2 separate regions of the Homo sapiens genome follow, and region 2 is linked to region 1. The links come from fine-mapping of genetic effects on gene expression. A gene starts in region 1. The other region holds a variant in brackets. All regions are shown on one strand. Distances are between the middles of the regions. Region 1 holds the start of SPON2 (spondin 2). Region 2 holds the start of LOC124900837 (hornerin-like).

What was found. PIP is the estimated chance that this variant, and not a neighbour inherited with it, causes the effect.
Region 2: its variant is fine-mapped to the expression of SPON2 in skeletal muscle (FUSION, PIP 0.95).

What each region holds. Positions count from the first base shown.
Region 1 is chr4:1,168,551-1,176,876 of GRCh38, forward strand. It overlaps SPON2 (spondin 2), which reads right to left and starts at 4,033. Exons shown (of 6, transcript NM_012445.4): 1 at 3,994-4,033; 2 at 3,302-3,524; 3 at 2,713-2,936; 4 at 2,449-2,640; 5 at 1,852-2,026. The coding sequence starts at 3,521. All of the region lies in intron 1 of LOC124900647 (nascent polypeptide-associated complex subunit alpha, muscle-specific form-like), which reads left to right. RefSeq lists enhancers at 3,213-3,928, 3,929-4,646.
Region 2 is chr4:1,144,602-1,152,927 of GRCh38, forward strand. All of the region lies in intron 1 of LOC124900647 (nascent polypeptide-associated complex subunit alpha, muscle-specific form-like), which reads left to right. LOC124900837 (hornerin-like) reads left to right here and starts at 830. Exons shown (of 2, transcript XM_047416541.1): 1 at 830-1,333; 2 at 1,949-8,326. The coding sequence starts at 830. The coding sequence ends at 3,559. RefSeq lists enhancers at 5,157-5,657, 5,658-6,158. The variant A/T (reference allele first, on the strand shown) is at 3,929.

The DNA of each region.
Region 1 (8,326 bases):
ACCTTGGGCGCTGAGGCTTCGCAGGGGCACTGGTGTAGAAGCCAGAGAGCCAGGGCCCCGGGCAGCCCACCTGGGGAGCACACAGAGCTGCTGGCAGATCCCAGCACCCCCCAGCTTCCTGACTGAAACCGAGGTGGTGGGAGCGCCCCTGCCCTGGCTGCAATGAGGAGTCAGTGAGCACTGGCAGTGCCTGTTCTACAGCGAGGGCCCCACCACAAGCCTCTCCAATGCTGCAGAGCCCTGTCAGGAGGCCTGGGGACAGGCATCCAGCGTGTGAGCAGGAAGCCAGAGCTGAGCCAGGCTGGCTTGGCGTGGACCTGGCGGAGCCTCCTGGGTGCCAGCCGCCACATGCCCATCCCAGCCTCTGCCCTCGGGAAGCCAGAAGTCACAGGAGAGACCCTTGTGGGCGGTGGTCTGTGCTCCGTCCCCACTGCCCACTCTGGTCCCTCGGCTGGCACAGCTGGCTCTGTCCGTCTCCCACCCTTCTCTCCATGTCCTGCCTCCTGCTCAGAGCTCATAGCACAGTCTCTCCCCACCCTTCCCCTGCAATACTGCTTCTGCTTGGCCACAGCTGACTTTATCCCTCTCCTAGCCCAGGGCACTGGCCATGTGCTCCCCTGCCCACTGTGGCCCAGTGCCCCCAAATGTGGGGCAAACCGCACCTCTCTGGACCCTCTGCCCACGAGGGGCTCTTCCCGCCAGACCAGTTGCACACCACGAACAGTGCTGGCACGTCTGCCTGTTGGGTAAGTGGCTCGGGGACATCTGCTTGGAATGGGGCATCCGCGTGGACAAATGAGTGAGGAGCCCAAGCCTGCACTGGGCAGGGGCAGCACCGAGGCTGGCACAGGGAGGCCCAGTTCATCCCAAATGAGGAGGGACCCAGGACTGGGCACAGTCTCTGTCTGGGGAGTGGTTCCCGCCAGCCAGGCGGCCTCCTGTCTGACCTGACCTGGCCCTTGCTTCCAGGGACGGCTGACAGTAAGCTTGTAATTACTGCTGCTCCTCAAGACGACATCTGTCCCTACCACATGGCTTGGGGGGCAGGTGTGGGGCGGCCCCGTACCTGCCTCAACTCCAGCCAGCAACATGGAGGGTGGAGGACGACGGGGCCCATGGCCAGGTTGGTGGGCTCCAGTTCCTCCTCGGGAAAGTCTGAAGTCCGCTGTTGTCTGGGGCCTACACTGACTGTCCCACACCCATATCAGGTGAGACCCAGAGACCCAGAGCCAACAGGCCCTGACCCACGACCCAGCAATGCGCTCCAGACCACAGGCGCTCCGTGAGGCCAGTGGCTGCCACCCAGCTGAGTAGGGAGGGAACTGCCACTCGGCCCCAGCGTTCCCAGCCTGCCCTGTCCAGCAGGTGCCTGGAAGAGCTAGGAGAATGCTCATCAGCACCTGCCCCGCCCCAGGCCAAGGCGCCTGTGAGCAGAGCCCCGAGCTGTGTGGTGGCTGGGTCCCGAGACCCCCACAGGTGCCCTGCAGCATAGCTGTCACCCGGTGGCCACACAGGGCCATCCTAGCAAGCTTCCTTGTCAGCTGTGACACACAGGTCACCTGTGGGTGCGTGTCTGACAGGACAGAGTCTCTCAGGTACTGTCTGGAGCCTCCTTTCATTCTTTCCTCTGGGCTGTGGCCCTGTAAGATGCTTTCAACTGCAAATAATGTGCAAGAGTCACATCTTCAGTGTGTGAATCAACAGAATCCTAAATCTTCTAGGCACCATCTTGCAGTACGCACTACGAATCCCTACTTGGAATTTCTCAGAGCCTTAGGTTCGGGTTTGGTGGTCGCCCTGTGGCAGGGTTCGGGGCTGCTGTGTGTCCCATGTGACCTGTATGTCCGTTACCTGAGGCGCTGTCTACAATCTCATTGTCCCTGCTGGGCAGGACTGGGGCGGGAGGGATGAAGGCCCTGGGGCTCTGTCGCAGCCGCACCAGTGTCACCCTGGCGATGGGAGGCAGGGCCTTCAGCCGCGGGTAGTAGAAGGAGTTGGCCGGGTGGCTGGGAGAGGAGGACGTTATCTGGGGAGGAAGAAGAGGAGGTTGGCCTGGGGTCCGAGAAGCCCACCTTCTGGTATGCGTATGGCCTCACTGGGGCCACTGCCCAGCGTCCAGCGTGCCCTCTGCACCACTGTTGGGGACAGGGTCCCATGTACTCCTCTCAGCCATCCCACGGAACACGGGCTGGAAACCGAGGCCAGGAAGGGGCAGCCTCCTCGGGACGCGCGTCCCGCTGTCCTCCCTGCGGTGCTGTGACCCCGGGTTGGGAGAGTATGGGAGGGCTGCACCCCCTTGCTCACTGCTGGCGCTAGAAGCAGAGCCTCTTCCACACAAAAGCCGCAAGCGGCTGTCCTGGGCTGGGAGGCGAGGGTGCAGCCAGGCCCCAGCCCCGTCCCCACCGCGGGGGCCATAGCGGCCCTTGCGCACGCGGGGTGCCCACTCACCTCGGTCACCGTGTCCTGCGGGATGGTGGCGAAGTTGGGGGAGGAGAAGGTGAAGCCGCTGTCCGTCCCGGCGTCGTAGGGGTACAGGTCCAGCGCCGCCTGTTCCCGCCAACGGTCCCCGTCGCACAGGTCCAGGCTGTCCACGCCCACGAACCAGTCGGGGCTGGGCACGATGCGCACCACAAACGAGACCTGCGGCGACAGCGGCTCAGCGCGCCTGGCCCCGGCCCCCCGGACCCCGCCCCCGGCCGGCCCCGCGCTCACCAGCGAGTGCCTGCGCTGCACCTCCAGCTCCGCCGACGTCTGCCCGGTGCCGCTGGGGACGGCGGGCGCCGAAAACACCGCGTGCACGCTCTGCAGCGCCTCCCCCGCCGCCTCGATCTCCTTCATCAGCGCCCAGGCCTCGCCGCGCTCCGCAAAGTCGCGCAGCCCGTTACTGACGTACTGGTTCTTCCTCCACATGCTGTAGTCGGAGCTATGCGCGGCCCCTGCAGGACCACCCGGCCGCGCCGCGGACCATGGTCAGACACTGCGGTCGGGCTTGGATTCCAGGGGGCGCCCCAGGAAATCCCTCCCCGCCGCCCGCAGGGAACCATGGCCCCCAGTCACGTCGGACCGTGACACCCTGTGGCTGCCCCTGCCGCGACCCACCTGCGCCCTCCCCGTGAGCGCCCCCTGCCCCCACCGCATCCCCGGAACCGCACACCGCAGGCGCTCGGCAAACATTCTGGTGTTAGAGTCTCCCGACGTCAGCACGCCCCAGACTGGGAAGCGCCGCCGTGCAGCTGTGCGGGGGGCTCCGGCGCCGCAGCCCTCCTGGTGGAGCAGGAGGCGAGGAGGGGGCTGTACTTACCCAGCAGCGAAGACCACTGCGCAGGGGGGCGGAACAGGGGGTACTGCTTGGGGAAGGCCGTCTGGCTCCACTTGCCCGTGAAGGTGATGCTGTATTTGGCCAGGGCTCTGGCGGAACAGATGGACTCTCCCCCAAGAGGCTGGCCGGCGGCGCCGAGAGTGGCCAGGAGGAGAGCGCAGAGGGCCTTGCCCAGGGCGGCGGCCGGGCTGGGGTTTTCCATCACCTGGGAGCACAGAGGGGAGCAGCCGCGCGCTGGCACCGTCGTGGCAGCCTCGGGGTGGAAAGCCGAGAGGGCTGCGGCACTTTGGGCTCTGAGGACGGCCCCGAGCACCCGCGACCCCCTCCCTGCTCCGCAAAGCTCTCCTGCGGTGCTTCCGAGACCCCCATCAGCGGAATGGACGGCGCGGGGTTAGATCGCCCGTGCGCCTGCGAGCGACCAGGGGTAACGGGCAGGTTTTCAGTCCGAGTCCCTGCAGCTTGCCGGGCCGGTCTGGGTGCGGCCTCCGGGATGCCTTCGCCGTCGCAGGGACCCGGGGCCTTGGCCGACTGGCTGCCCCCGGGACTAGACCCTTAAAGCTCGGTCGCAGCCAGTCCTGGGGGTCCCTCTGGAGGTGCCACAAGGTTCTGGGCCGCGGGGAAAGTGCAGGAGGCCCGGGCCCTCTCTGGGTGTCCCGGGGGCACGCAGTACTCACCCGGCAGGAGCAGCGGGAGCGCGGCCGGCAGCGGTCGGGTCCCAGCCAGAGCCCGGAGCTCCTATTTAAGCCCGAGGCCGGCGCCCCGGGCCGGCCAATGAGGCTCCAGTTCCTCCTGTCTTCGATGCTGCACGGCCTGGCCTCCAGCGAGAGGCAGATAGGACGTGGGAGAAAGGAGGAGAAGGGGCTGCGGGGGCGGCGGGGGCTGCCGCTTTCCCAACTCGCCCTGCCCAGCGACCTTCCCCGGGTCGGATCACCCTCTTCCCCTGGCAGTGCTGCCGCACCCCTTTCTTTGTCTGTCTGTCCTATCCCTCCCCTCCCCTCCCTGTCCCCTCCCTTCCCCTCCCCTCCCCTCCTCCCCTCCCCTCCTCCCCTCCCCTCCTCCCCTCCCCCCTGTCCTCCTCCCTCTCCCCGTTTCTCTCCCGTTCCAACAAGCGCCTTCCTGGTGCCTCCCTAGGTGCCACTGAGGGGAGTTCTTTGCCCCAAGCCTTTCGGGAAAGCTCAGGGCGTGGGGGCAGAGGGGCTCTTGTTTTCACCTTCTCGAAATTAGAGCCAGCGTGCTACACCTTCTTGCGCAGGGTGTGACCTGGAGAGCCCTGTGCGTGGCCTGACTTCAGTCTACATGCTGGAAGTGGCTGGGGAAGCTCCTGGCTCCCGGCGCAGGCATCCCTGGCCTTTGGGGCCCTGGCTTTAAGTCTCTTTCCTGGCATGGCCTAAAGCTGCACAGAACAGCCTAGCGGTCTGCACTGTGGCCAGAGGGCATTTGCAAGCCATCCCTCCTGGAGGGAGGTCAGAGTGGGCTGAGGGTCTGGGGTGGAACGCGCAGGGAGTCAGGAAGAGCCACAGAAAGGGGGCCCCCCTCCCCAGGACCCCGCACAGGGCTGGGGCTGCAGGCCGGCGGTGTGTGCGGTGCAGAGCCCTCCCAGGGGCTCTAGGCTTCCCTGCCTTTGGGATGAAGCTAACAGATGCTGAAGTTGATCCTGCTCCATGTCAGGAAAATATTTATAGGTCCCCAGTCATGGGATCTGGAAACAGAGCGGAGGAAGGAGCTCGGGAATGGTCTTGCTCAATCCTTCCCGGCCTCTGCTCATCGGAATCACCCAGAGGGCTTTTAAGCTTAGACAAAACACTCTGATGTTTGGAACCCTGTTAATGTTTCACAGATTCAAAAAGAGAGAAAAAATAAATAGAAGCAACTAGGACAGAATGCAAACAGAAACAAATGATCTAACCTGTATTTTAAGCGAAAACCACAGATCAGCCACTCAATGCAGTATTTAGACTCCAGGCCCCCAGGCCAAAGACAAATTTCCACCTCCGTGCTTCTCAAATGTTTTTATCTGAGGACTCCTTCATACTCTTAAAGGTCACTGAGGGCCAGGCGCAGTGGCTCATGCCTGTAATCCCAGCACTTTGGGAGGCCGAGGCGGGAGGATCACTTGAGCCCAGAGTTTGATACCAGCCTTGGCAACACAGGGAGACCTCATCTCTACAAAACATACAAAAATTAGCTGGGTGTGGTGGAGTGCGCCTGTGGTCTCAACTAGTCAGGAGACTGTGTCTGTGGTCCCGGCTACTCAGGAGACTGAGGTGGGAGGATCACCTGAGCCAGGGGAGGTCAAGCCTGCAGTGAACTGTGTGTGCCACTGCCCTCCAGCCTGGGCGACAGAGTGAGACTCATGCCTGTAATCCCAGCACTTTGGGAGGCCAGGGCGGGCGGATCACTTGAGGTCAGGAACTCGAGACCAGCCTGGCCAACATGGTGAAGCCCCATCTGTACTAAAAATACAAAAACTAGCTGGATGTGGTGGTGCACGCCAGTAATCCCAGCCACTCAGAAGGCTGAGGCAGGAGAATTTCTTGAACCCAGGGGGCAGGGGTTGTAGTGAGCCAAGATCGCGCCACTGCAGTCCAGCCTGGGCAACAGAGCGAGACTCCATCTCAAAAAAAAAAAAAAAACAAAAAAACAAAAAACAAAAACAAAAAAAACTAATTGAGGACACTGAAGAACTTTTTTGTTTGTATGGGTTATACCTATGGATACTTATCATTTTCTAAATCATAACAGAAATGTTCAGAATACTTGCCAATTCACTTAAAAATAAGAAAATATTGCTATTACACATTAACATAAATAGCATAATGTTTTATGAAAAGCAATCATACTTTTAAAAATGAAAAACCCGCCTGAGAAAAGTGGCGTGGTTCTACGTTGGTGCGAATCTTTGTATTGTCCGGCTTAGTGGAAGCTGGATTCCCATATCGGCTCCAGCACTTCATCTGCTGAGATGTGCTGTTGGTTGAAGTCTATGAAGAAAATCCAGCCTTGGCTGCGTATGTTACCAGCCTTGTCAGGTGCCTGCTCTGGCCTGCAGCCCTCGAAAGCCGCCGTGTGCCCATCAGAGCATGGGAGCAAAAGGTGCCCTCATGCAATGGGCTTCGATCTCATCATCTGCCTGGAAGGATCTCAGGCCCTCCACGAGTCCCCAGAGCAGGACTGGCAGCCGCTGCTCAGAGGCTGGACTCGAATCCACAGGCCTTTTTCCCAGAGCGGCATGGGGCGGCTGTACTGCAGCTACTCTGCATCCCTGGACAATCCTCGCTTTCTGGACAGCTTCCTCGGCTGAAAGGAGCACAGGCTCCATGGCAAAGCTACTGGCTCTGGGTCTGAGGAGAGGAAGGAGGCGCCGGGTCTGGGGCATGTTCCTGTGTAGGAAGCCAGGGTGCCGCTCCAGAGACTCGCTGAGGCACAGTCCCCATCTCAGTCCAGCTCTGGCCGTGGCAGCGGCTTCCAGGCTCACCCAGTCTCACAGGAGGCCAAGGAGGCTGCGGAACAGCCCAGGGGCAGCAGGAGCTGTTCTCCCAGCCCGGCCCTCATGCCGTCTCAGTGAGCTCTGCGACCTGGGGCCCCCACTTGGCGGTGGGCCCAGGCTGGGGGGTCTCCAGCTAGGATGTAGGGCGGTGGTGGGCCCAGGCTGGGGGGTCTCCAGCTAGGATGTGGGTGGTGGTGGGCCCAGGCTGTGTGGGGGGAGTCTCCAGCTAAGATATAGGGTGGTGGTGGGCCCTGGCCTGGGTGGGGGTTCTCCAGCTAGGATGTGGGTGGTAGTAGGCCCAGGCCTCGGGGGCTTCAGCTAGGATGTGGGTGGTGGTAGGCCCAGGCCTGGGGATCTCCAGCTAGGATGTAGGGTAGTGGTGGGCCCAGGCCTCGGGGGCTTCAGCTAGGATGTAGGGCAGTGGTGGGCCTAGGCCTGGGGGTCTCTAGCTAGGATGTGGGGTGGTGGTAGACCGAGGCCTTGGAGGTGCTCCAGGCAGGGCCACAGCTGATTTGTCTGGGAAGGGAGGGGGCTTGTTTGGAGGGCTGGAGTAGACAGCAGCCAGGAGGAACTTCCTTTGGTAGTGGGAGGCCCCTCCAAAAGCACGCCTGCGAAGGCCCTAGGGCACCAGGGGACATGGGAGCATTCTTTGCTGTGCTCAGAGAGGGGGACATGGGAGAACTGGGGCCAGGTGGGCTTAATTTTCTGGATCCTGTGGCCCCTTGGGTTGGATCGGGCTGGGGTCTCAGGCAGAGCTGTTTCTGCACTGAGGCAGGGACTGCAGGCCAGTGACGGAGTGATCTTGTGTGACTCCATGCTCTCAGAGTCTTGCTGGAAACCCCCCTGGCTCTCAGACCCTCTTCTGTGAACCAGAAGTCTCTATCCTGCCTTCTGCTGAGGGTCACAGGATAAGTATCCATAGGTGTAACTCACACACCAGCACTTTGCAAGGTGTCCCCCCACCCACACAGAAGAGTTCCTCTGTGCCCGCAGGCAGGAGCAGCCCCCCACATACACACACAGTACATTCATTCATTCACTCACACAGTACTTTCATTCATCCACCCATTCAAATAGTACATTCATTCATTCACTCACTCACACAGTACATTCATTCATCCATTCACACAGTACATTCATGCAATCATCCACACAGTACATTGATTCACACAGTACATTCATTCACTAATTCACTCACACAGTACATTCATTCAAGCATCCATTCACACAGTACATTCAATCATCCATTCACACAGTACATTCATGCAGTCATCCACACAGTACATTCATTCACTAATTCACTCACACAGTACATTCATTCAATCATCCATTCACACAGTACATTCATGCAATCATCCACACAGTACATTGATTCACACAGTACATTCATGCACTAATTCACTCACACAGTACATTCATTCAATCATCCATTCATACAGTACATTCATGCAATCATCCACAGTTCATTCATTCATTCACACAGTTCATTCACACACTTCATTCATTCATTCACACACTTC
Region 2 (8,326 bases), 24 kb before region 1:
CATGGAAATGGCACCGACGGGGAGAGCTCAGAACGCCGTGGATATCATGGAAATGGCACCGACGGGGAGAGCTCAGGACGCCGTGGATATCATGGAAATGGCACCGACGGGGAGAGCTCAGGACGCCGTGGATATCATGGAAATGGCACCGACGGGGAGAGCTCAGGATGCCGCGGATATCATGGAAATGGCACCGACGGGGAGAGCTCGGAAATGGCACCAACGGGGAGAGTTCAGAACACCGTGGATATCTTGGAAATGGCACCGATGGGGAGAGCTTAGAACGCCGTGGATATCATGGAAATAGCACCCATAGCGAGAGTTTAGAATGCCGTGGATATCATGGAAATGGCACCGATGGGGAGAGCTTAGAATGCCGTGGATATCACGGAAGTGGCACCGACGGGGAGAGTTTAAAACACCGTGGATATCATGGAAATGGCACCGATGGGGAGAGCTTAGAACGCTGTGGATATCATGGAAGTGACACTGACAGAGCTTAGAACACTGTGGATATCATGGAAGTGGCACCGACGAGGAGAGCTTAGAATGCCGTGGATATCATGGAAATGGCACTGACAGGGAGAGCTTAGAACGCCGTGCATATCATGGAAATGGCACCGATGGGGAGAGTTTAGAACACCGTGGATATCATGGAAATGGTACCGATGGGGAGAGTTTAGAACGCCGTGGATATCATGGAAATGGCACTGACAGGGAGAGTTTAAAACGCCGTGGATATCATGGAAATGGCACCGATGGGGAGAGCTTAGAACGCTGTGGATATCATGGAAGTGACACTGACAGAGCTTAGAACACCGTGGATATCATGGAAGTGGCACCGACGGGGAGAGCTCAGGACGCCGTGGATATCATGGAAATGGCACCGACGGGGAGAGCTCAGGACGCCGTGGATATCATGGAAATGGCACCGACGGGGAGAGCTCAGGACGCCGTGGATATCATGGAAATGGCACCGACGGGGAGAGCTCAGGACGCCGTGGATATCATGGAAATGGCACCGACGGGGAGAGCTCAGGACGCCCTGGATATCATGGAAATGGCACCGACGGGGAGAGCTCAGGACGCCGTGGATATCATGGAAATGGCACCGACGGGGAGAGCTCAGGACGCCGTGGATATCATGGAAATGGCACCGACGGGGAGAGCTCAGGACGCCGTGGATATCATGGAAATGGCACCGACGGGGAGAGCTCAGGACGCCGCGGATATCATGGAAATGGCACCGACGGGGAGAGCTCAGGACGCCGTGGATATCATGGAAATGGCACCGACGGGGAGAGCTCAGGACGCCGCGGATATCATGGAAATGGCACCGACGGGGAGAGCTCGGAAATGGCACCAACGGGGAGAGTTCAGAACACCGTGGATATCTTGGAAATGGCACCGATGGGGAGAGCTTAGAACGCCGTGGATATCATGGAAATAGCACCCATAGCGAGAGTTTAGAATGCCGTGGATATCATGGAAATGGCACTGATGGGGAGAGCTTAGAACGCCGTGGATATCACGGAAGTGGCACCAACGGGGAGAGTTTAAAACACCGTGGATATCATGGAAATGGCACCGATGGGGAGAGCTTAGAACGCTGTGGATATCATGGAAGTGACACTGACAGAGCTTAGAACACTGTGGATATCATGGAAGTGGCACCGACGAGGAGAGCTTAGAATGCCGTGGATATCATGGAAATGGCACTGACAGGGAGAGCTTAGAACGCCGTGCATATCATGGAAATGGCACCGATGGGGAGAGTTTAGAACACCGTGGATATCATGGAAATGGTACCGATGGGGAGAGTTTAGAACGCCGTGGATATCATGGAAATGGCACTGACGGAGAGTTTAAAACGCCGTGGATATCATGGAAATGGCACCGATGGGGAGAGCTTAGAACGCTGTGGATATCATGGAAGTGACACTGACAGAGCTTAGAACACCGTGGATATCATGGAAGTGGCACCGACGGGGAGAGCTTAGAATGCCGTGGATATCATGGAAATGGCACTGACAGGGAGAGCTTAGAACGCCGTGCATATCATGGAAATGGCACCGATGGGGAGAGTTTAGAACACCATGGATATCATGGAAATGGTACCGATGGGGAGAGTTTAGAACGCCATGGATATCATGGAAATGGCACCGACGGGGAGAGCTTAGGACACTGTGGATATCATGGAAATGGCACCGACAGCGAGAGTTTAGAATGCTGTGGATATCATGGAAATGGCACCGATGGGGAGAGCTTAGGACGCCGTGGATATCATGGAAATGGCACCGACGGGGAGAGCTTAGAATGCCATGGATATCATGGAAATGGCACCGATGGGGAGAGTTTAGAACGCCGTGGATATTATGGAAATGGCACCGATGGGGAGAGTTTAGAACGCCGTGGATATCATGGAAATGTCACCGACGGGGAGAGCTTAGAACGCCATGGATATCATGGAAATGGCACCGACGGGGAGAGTTTAGAACGCCGTGGATATCATGGAAATGGCACCGACAGGGAGAGTTTAGAACGCCGTGGATATCATGGAAATGGCACCCACAGCGAGAGTTTAGAACACCATGGATATCATGGAAATGGCACTGACAGGGAGAGTTTAGAACGCCATGGATATCATGGAAATGGCACCGACAGGGAGAGCTTAGAACGTCGTGGATATCATGGAAATGGCACCAACAGGGAGAGTTTAGAACACCGTGGATATCATGGAAATGGCACCCACAGCGAGAGTTTAGAACACCGTGGATATCATGGAAATGGCACCCACAGCGAGAGTTTAGAACACCATGGATATCATGGAAATGGCACCGACAGGGAGAGCTTAGAACGTCGTGGATATCATGGAAATGGCACCAACAGGGAGAGTTTAGAACACCGTGGATATCATGGAAATGGCACCCACAGCGAGAGTTTAGAACACCGTGGATATCATGGAAATGGCACTGACAGCGAGAGTTTAGAACACCGTGGATATCATGGAAATGGCACTGACAGCGAGAGTTTAGAACACCGTGGATATCATGGAAATGGCACCAACAGGGAGAGTTTAGAACACTGTGGATATCATGGAAATGGCACCCACAGCGAGAGTTTAGAACACCGTGGATATCATGGAAATGGCACTGACAGCGAGAGTTTAGAACACCGTGGATATCATGGAAATGGCACTGACAGCGAGAGTTTAGAACGCTGTGGATATCATGGAAATGGCACCCACAGCGAGAGTTTAGAACACCGTGGATATCATGGAAATGGCACCGACGGGGAGAGTTTAGAACGCCGTGGATATCATGGAAATGGCACCAATGGGGAGAGTTTAGAACACCATGGATATCGTGGAAATGGCACTGATGGGGAGAGTTTAGAACACCGTGGATATCATGGAAATGGCACCCACAGCGAGAGTTTAGAACACCATGGATATCATGGAAATGGCACTGACAGGGAGAGTTTAGAACACCGTGGATATCATGGAAATGGATTTCAGAAAGGCTTTTGTATGTTAGTTTTCAGCCAAGTCAAGAAGTGAGATGCATCCACATCTGGCTGCATGCTTGTAATTAGAATCTGACTTTCAAATTCGTCTCAATGTGTGTGGAAGTCTTAGAACCACAGTTCATCCTGCAGTTTGTTCAGTTCTGATTAAAAGCACTCACTCCACATGTGCCAGGCACTGCAATAGGCTTTGGGGATACAAAGGTTAATAGAAGAGTTCATGCCCTCAAAGAGCTCATTCAGTCCTAATACACCTTCAAACCGGAAGTGTCCCTGCTGACACAGAGCAAAATGACCACTTTTATGAGCGACATGAAACTGGGAAGGGGACCCAGATATCCTCCTGTCCCCATCCCCGTCCCCCAGCACAGGGCCTGTGTCCCAGCAGCCTGCTGGTAGACCA[A/T]AGCAGCCAAGGTAAAAGGCCAATCCCGGCTCTCCCCCCAGCCAGCTTCGCACCACTCAATCTGTGGGAAATTGAGGGCATCATATTTGGACCATGACTTACTTGTGGTTGTTTGTTTAATTGGTTTTGATGAGTTTGGTTTGCTTTTCTCTCCTTGTACGATTTGCCCATTTTCTGTCCTCGGTTTTTCCATGTCTGAGTAATAGTCTTCTTTTGTCTTATGCCCATCCCCCGTTTTTGCCAGAGCCTTCCACCCTCCTGCCTCAGTCTCCACAGCCTGCTCCCTCGGCCTCCTCTGGGCTGGCTGTCCTGGGTCAGCGGTGAGTTCTTCTTTCTTGGGTTACATGCTTTGCGGCTTCTTTGCTGAATGCAGTCAGGGGCAGGGGCAGGGGCAGGCCCAGGGAGCTCGCCTGTCTTGCCCTACAGAGTCTTCAGCTCCCAGCTCTTAGCTTGACCCAAACGAGATACTTTCACGCATGTGTGTTACAAACTGGAGCAAAACCGCGCACTTGGCAACTAAGGAGAGTTAGCCTGCAAAGAGAAATCTGGGATGGGTGGAATCTGTGACTTCAGTTATGACGGACTTTCAGGTGAAAAAATGTGTATTTATTTTGAGTGGACCCAGATGGCAGAACAAGGATGATTGGATACAGTTGTGGAGATGTAGTTCCTGCACTATGGACAGCTGTGGGCTGTGCTCCCCGGCAAGGAAAAGGCGAGCAGCCACCCCAGAGCGCCAGTGCAGAGGCTCCCTTGGCACTAGGGTGTGGGGCAGGTGTGGGCTCCTCCACCACAGGGCAGTGGGTGAGGAGCACCAGACCCACAGGATGGCTTCCAGGACCAGTCTGTAGCTCTTGGACTTTAAGGGCATACTGTTCTCTTTTAAAGAAAAGTTAAAACTGTGGCCTGATGCGCCTTTTTTTTTTTTTTTTTTTTTTGAGATGGAGTCTCATTCTGTCACCCAGGCTGGAGTGCAGTGACGCGATCTCGGCTCACTACAACCTCTGCCTCCTGGGTTCAAGTGATTCTTCTGCTTCAGCCTCCCAAGTAGCCAGGACTGCAGGTGTCCACCACTACTCCTGGCTAATTTTTTTTCTTCTTTGTATTTTTAGTAGAGACGGGGTTTTACCATGTTGGCCAGGCTGGTCTTGAACCCCTGACCTCAAGTGATCACATGCCTCGGCCTCCCAAAGTGCTGGGATTACAGGTGTGAACCACCATGCCTGGCCCTGATGCACTTTCAAAGTTTTCCATAACAGTGAGTTTTAAGTAGCCAAGCTCTAAATCTAAATAATTGCCCAAGGGTGATGGTTAAGGAGACTGCTGAGTGGGAAGAACAGAGAGTAGGGAGGCTTGGGAAGACCAGGTGAGGAGGAGCAGTCAGTCAGAGAAGAGCCTTGGCAGGAACTGAGGAGGGAGGCGTGGACAGCAGCATCCGTGGGAAGGAGGACTCCAGAGGCTCCTGACTTGGGTGAGGGAGCCAGCCACAGTGGGCCCTGGTCTTCCAGCCAGATGGGACCGCTTGCCAGAGGATCCTTGGGGTGTCACATTTCTAGCTGGAAACTTCTGTGGCTGGTGGCACCCTTGCCCGAGTTTTGCTTGGGCCCACTGGGCTTGTTCTGCCCACTCAGCCTGGCATGCTGCACTCAACTCACGCTACTGGCCTGGATCCCACACCTGCCAAGAGCGAGTCAGGCACAGAGCAGTGAGGGGTGTGTGAGTGAGCATGGGGTCCAGCCACTGTGCAGTCAGGCACACCCGCAGCTGCTGCAAGGTGGGCAGCTCCAGTGCTGGCATGGGCGCCCACTCTCTGCAAGGCTGCAGCTGGACCAGGTGCACTGCAAGCAGCTTCCACAGCTGGCACTGGGGAATGCAGTATGCCAGGAACCACAGGGCCCCAAAGAGGGAGTCCAACTCAGAAGGGGCAGGGCTCCTGCTTGTTCCTGGCCTGGGGGGCTCCCAAGTCTAGGCTCCCTGAAGGGCTGCAGCTCTTCTCTCCTTCTCTTCCCCCATAGCATGGCAAGCAAGGGGCATGTCTCAGCCCTGTTTGTGTTATACCAGCTCTTTTAGCCTTGCCATTTGACGGGTCCCAAGTTCTTGTCCTGTGACCAGGAAGAATGAGGTCTGCAGACAAGTGGAGGGTGAGCAAGAGGAAGACGAGCTTTATTGAGCGATACAACGGCTCAGAGGAGACCCGCAGGGGCAGCTCCTTTCCACAGCCAGGGTGTCACAACGCGTGTTCAGCTCCTAGCACAGAGGAGACCGTAGAGTGGGAAGCTCCTCTTGGCAGGCAGGCCATCCTGTCATCTCTGAGGCTCTCAGCAGAGAGGAGGCCCTGGAGTGGGTTGCTCCTGTCTGCAGACGGGCCATCCCTTTGTGCCTGCGGCTCTCAGCAGAGAGGAGGCCCTGGAGTGGGCTGTTGCTCTCTGCAGGCAGGTCCTCTTGTTGTCTCCCCAGCTCTCAGCAGAGAGGAGGCCATGGAATGGGTAGCTCCTCTCTGCATCTGGTTGCCCTGATGTCTGCTCAGCTCTGGTTGAGCCTAGGGCTTTTATGGGCCTTAGAGGGGAGGAAGTGCACTGTGATTGGTACATTGGCAGTCATGGGTAAAGGCACCAGAAGTTCCCACTCTGGTCTGCAGGACTGGCAGCCCAGTCCCCAGCCTTCAGGACCTCCCTGGCCTGAAGGTGGGGGCCTCACCAGGGACCTGCCCTCTTCCACCCAGGAACTTGTCTGCGTCCTGCTGCTATTCATGGTGTCCAGGCTATAGGTGCCAAGGGGTGCCTGCAGGCCAGTGCCAAGCTACCCTCAGCCCACCCTTGGCTTCCCTCCTATTCTCGGTGCTTAAAGTCTGGAGGGTGCTGAGGCAGCAGGGGGCTGGTGTATTAGCACTGCCCTGAGCGTGTGCACACCTGGCCAGGCTGCAACAGTGCCCAGGCTCGCCCTGACTTTACTCTGAGATCAAAGTGGACACTGACAGCAGGGAGAAGCCAGGCAGCAGAAGCAGGCACTTCCAAACCTGCGAAGGCCGGGGATGGGGCTTCCTGGGCCCCCTAGAGTGCAGAGATGCCTGGGTCTGCAGCCATGGTTTGGGTGGCTGTAGCTGCGCCTAGGAGAGGGGCTTCTCTCTGCTCCCGGCTTCCAGGAGCACAGGGATGCCTGGGTCTGCAGCCATGACTTGGGCAGCTGCATCTGTGCCCAGAGGGGTGGGGCTCCTGCCTGCTCCATGGAGCAGAAGGCCTGGATCTGCAGCTGGGACTTGGGTGGGGCTTCTGCCTGCTCTGTGGAGCAGGAGGTCTGGGTCTACAGCTGTGACTTCAGTGGCTGCAGCTGTGCCCAGGAGAGTGGGGCACCCATCTGCTCCCGGCCCGAGAGCACAGGGATGCCTAAGTCTGCAGAGAGCTACCACCCAACTCGGAAGGGGCAGGGCTCCTGCTTGTCCGCAGCTCCTGCCAGTTCCATGGAGCATGCAGCCCTGGCTGTGCCTCCCTGCTGCAGCTGGCATGATGGCACCAGCCACTTTAGATGGACCGTGGTGTCATCACTGAGACCCTGTCTTGACACAGCTGTCAGGACACTCTCTAGCCACACTTGCCTTCCTGCTGCCAGTGCCGCCGTGGCTCAGGTGGCTGCAGTTCCTTGAGATGTCCCAGTGGGTCCTGGGTGAGCCCATCCAGCTGATGGGCCATGAGGCAACAGGCAAGTGGACAGGCCAGCACTGTCCCCCTTCCTCTTCTTCTGCCCCTTCAACTGCAGGCTGGAAAATTCATATGTTACCAGGAAAACAGCCGGCTACCCAGGGCTATTTACCTCAGGGGCCAAGCTTCCCGTGGGATGAGATCGTTGGGCTCAGAGAACGTGTTGAGCAAACACAGTACTTTCTGTGAGCTGGGTTAGGTTGTAAAAGCCTTACAAAGAGTAACCTAATCATCAGCACAACCAACAGAAATAGATGTTTGTTTTTTTAATCATCATTGCATTTCACAAATTAAACAGAGGGTAAGTCACTTGCCCAGTGGCACACAGCTCTCAGGTGACAGACTGGGATTTGGATCCAGGCAGGCTTGTACAGACTCCAGAGTCCCAAATATGGCTTCATCCACAGTGTCGGAGCAGCAGCGAGGGCTCTAAGACCACCCAGCTCTCTTCCTGGCTATTTTTTCCATGCTACTCATCCCAAAACTTGATCTCACATTGCTCTGTTTCTTTCTCTGCCTCCATGCTTGATGCATTTACTTAATCTTTCGCAGGATGGGTCATTACTTTTTGCAATAGCACACTCAAAGGTAATGACCAAGATAAATTGAAAAGAGGATTCAACAGTATTCATTGTAAGATTGAATGGGATATAAAATACGTAATCAGCACTTGTGAGGAATATCACTAGATTCTCTTCTTCCT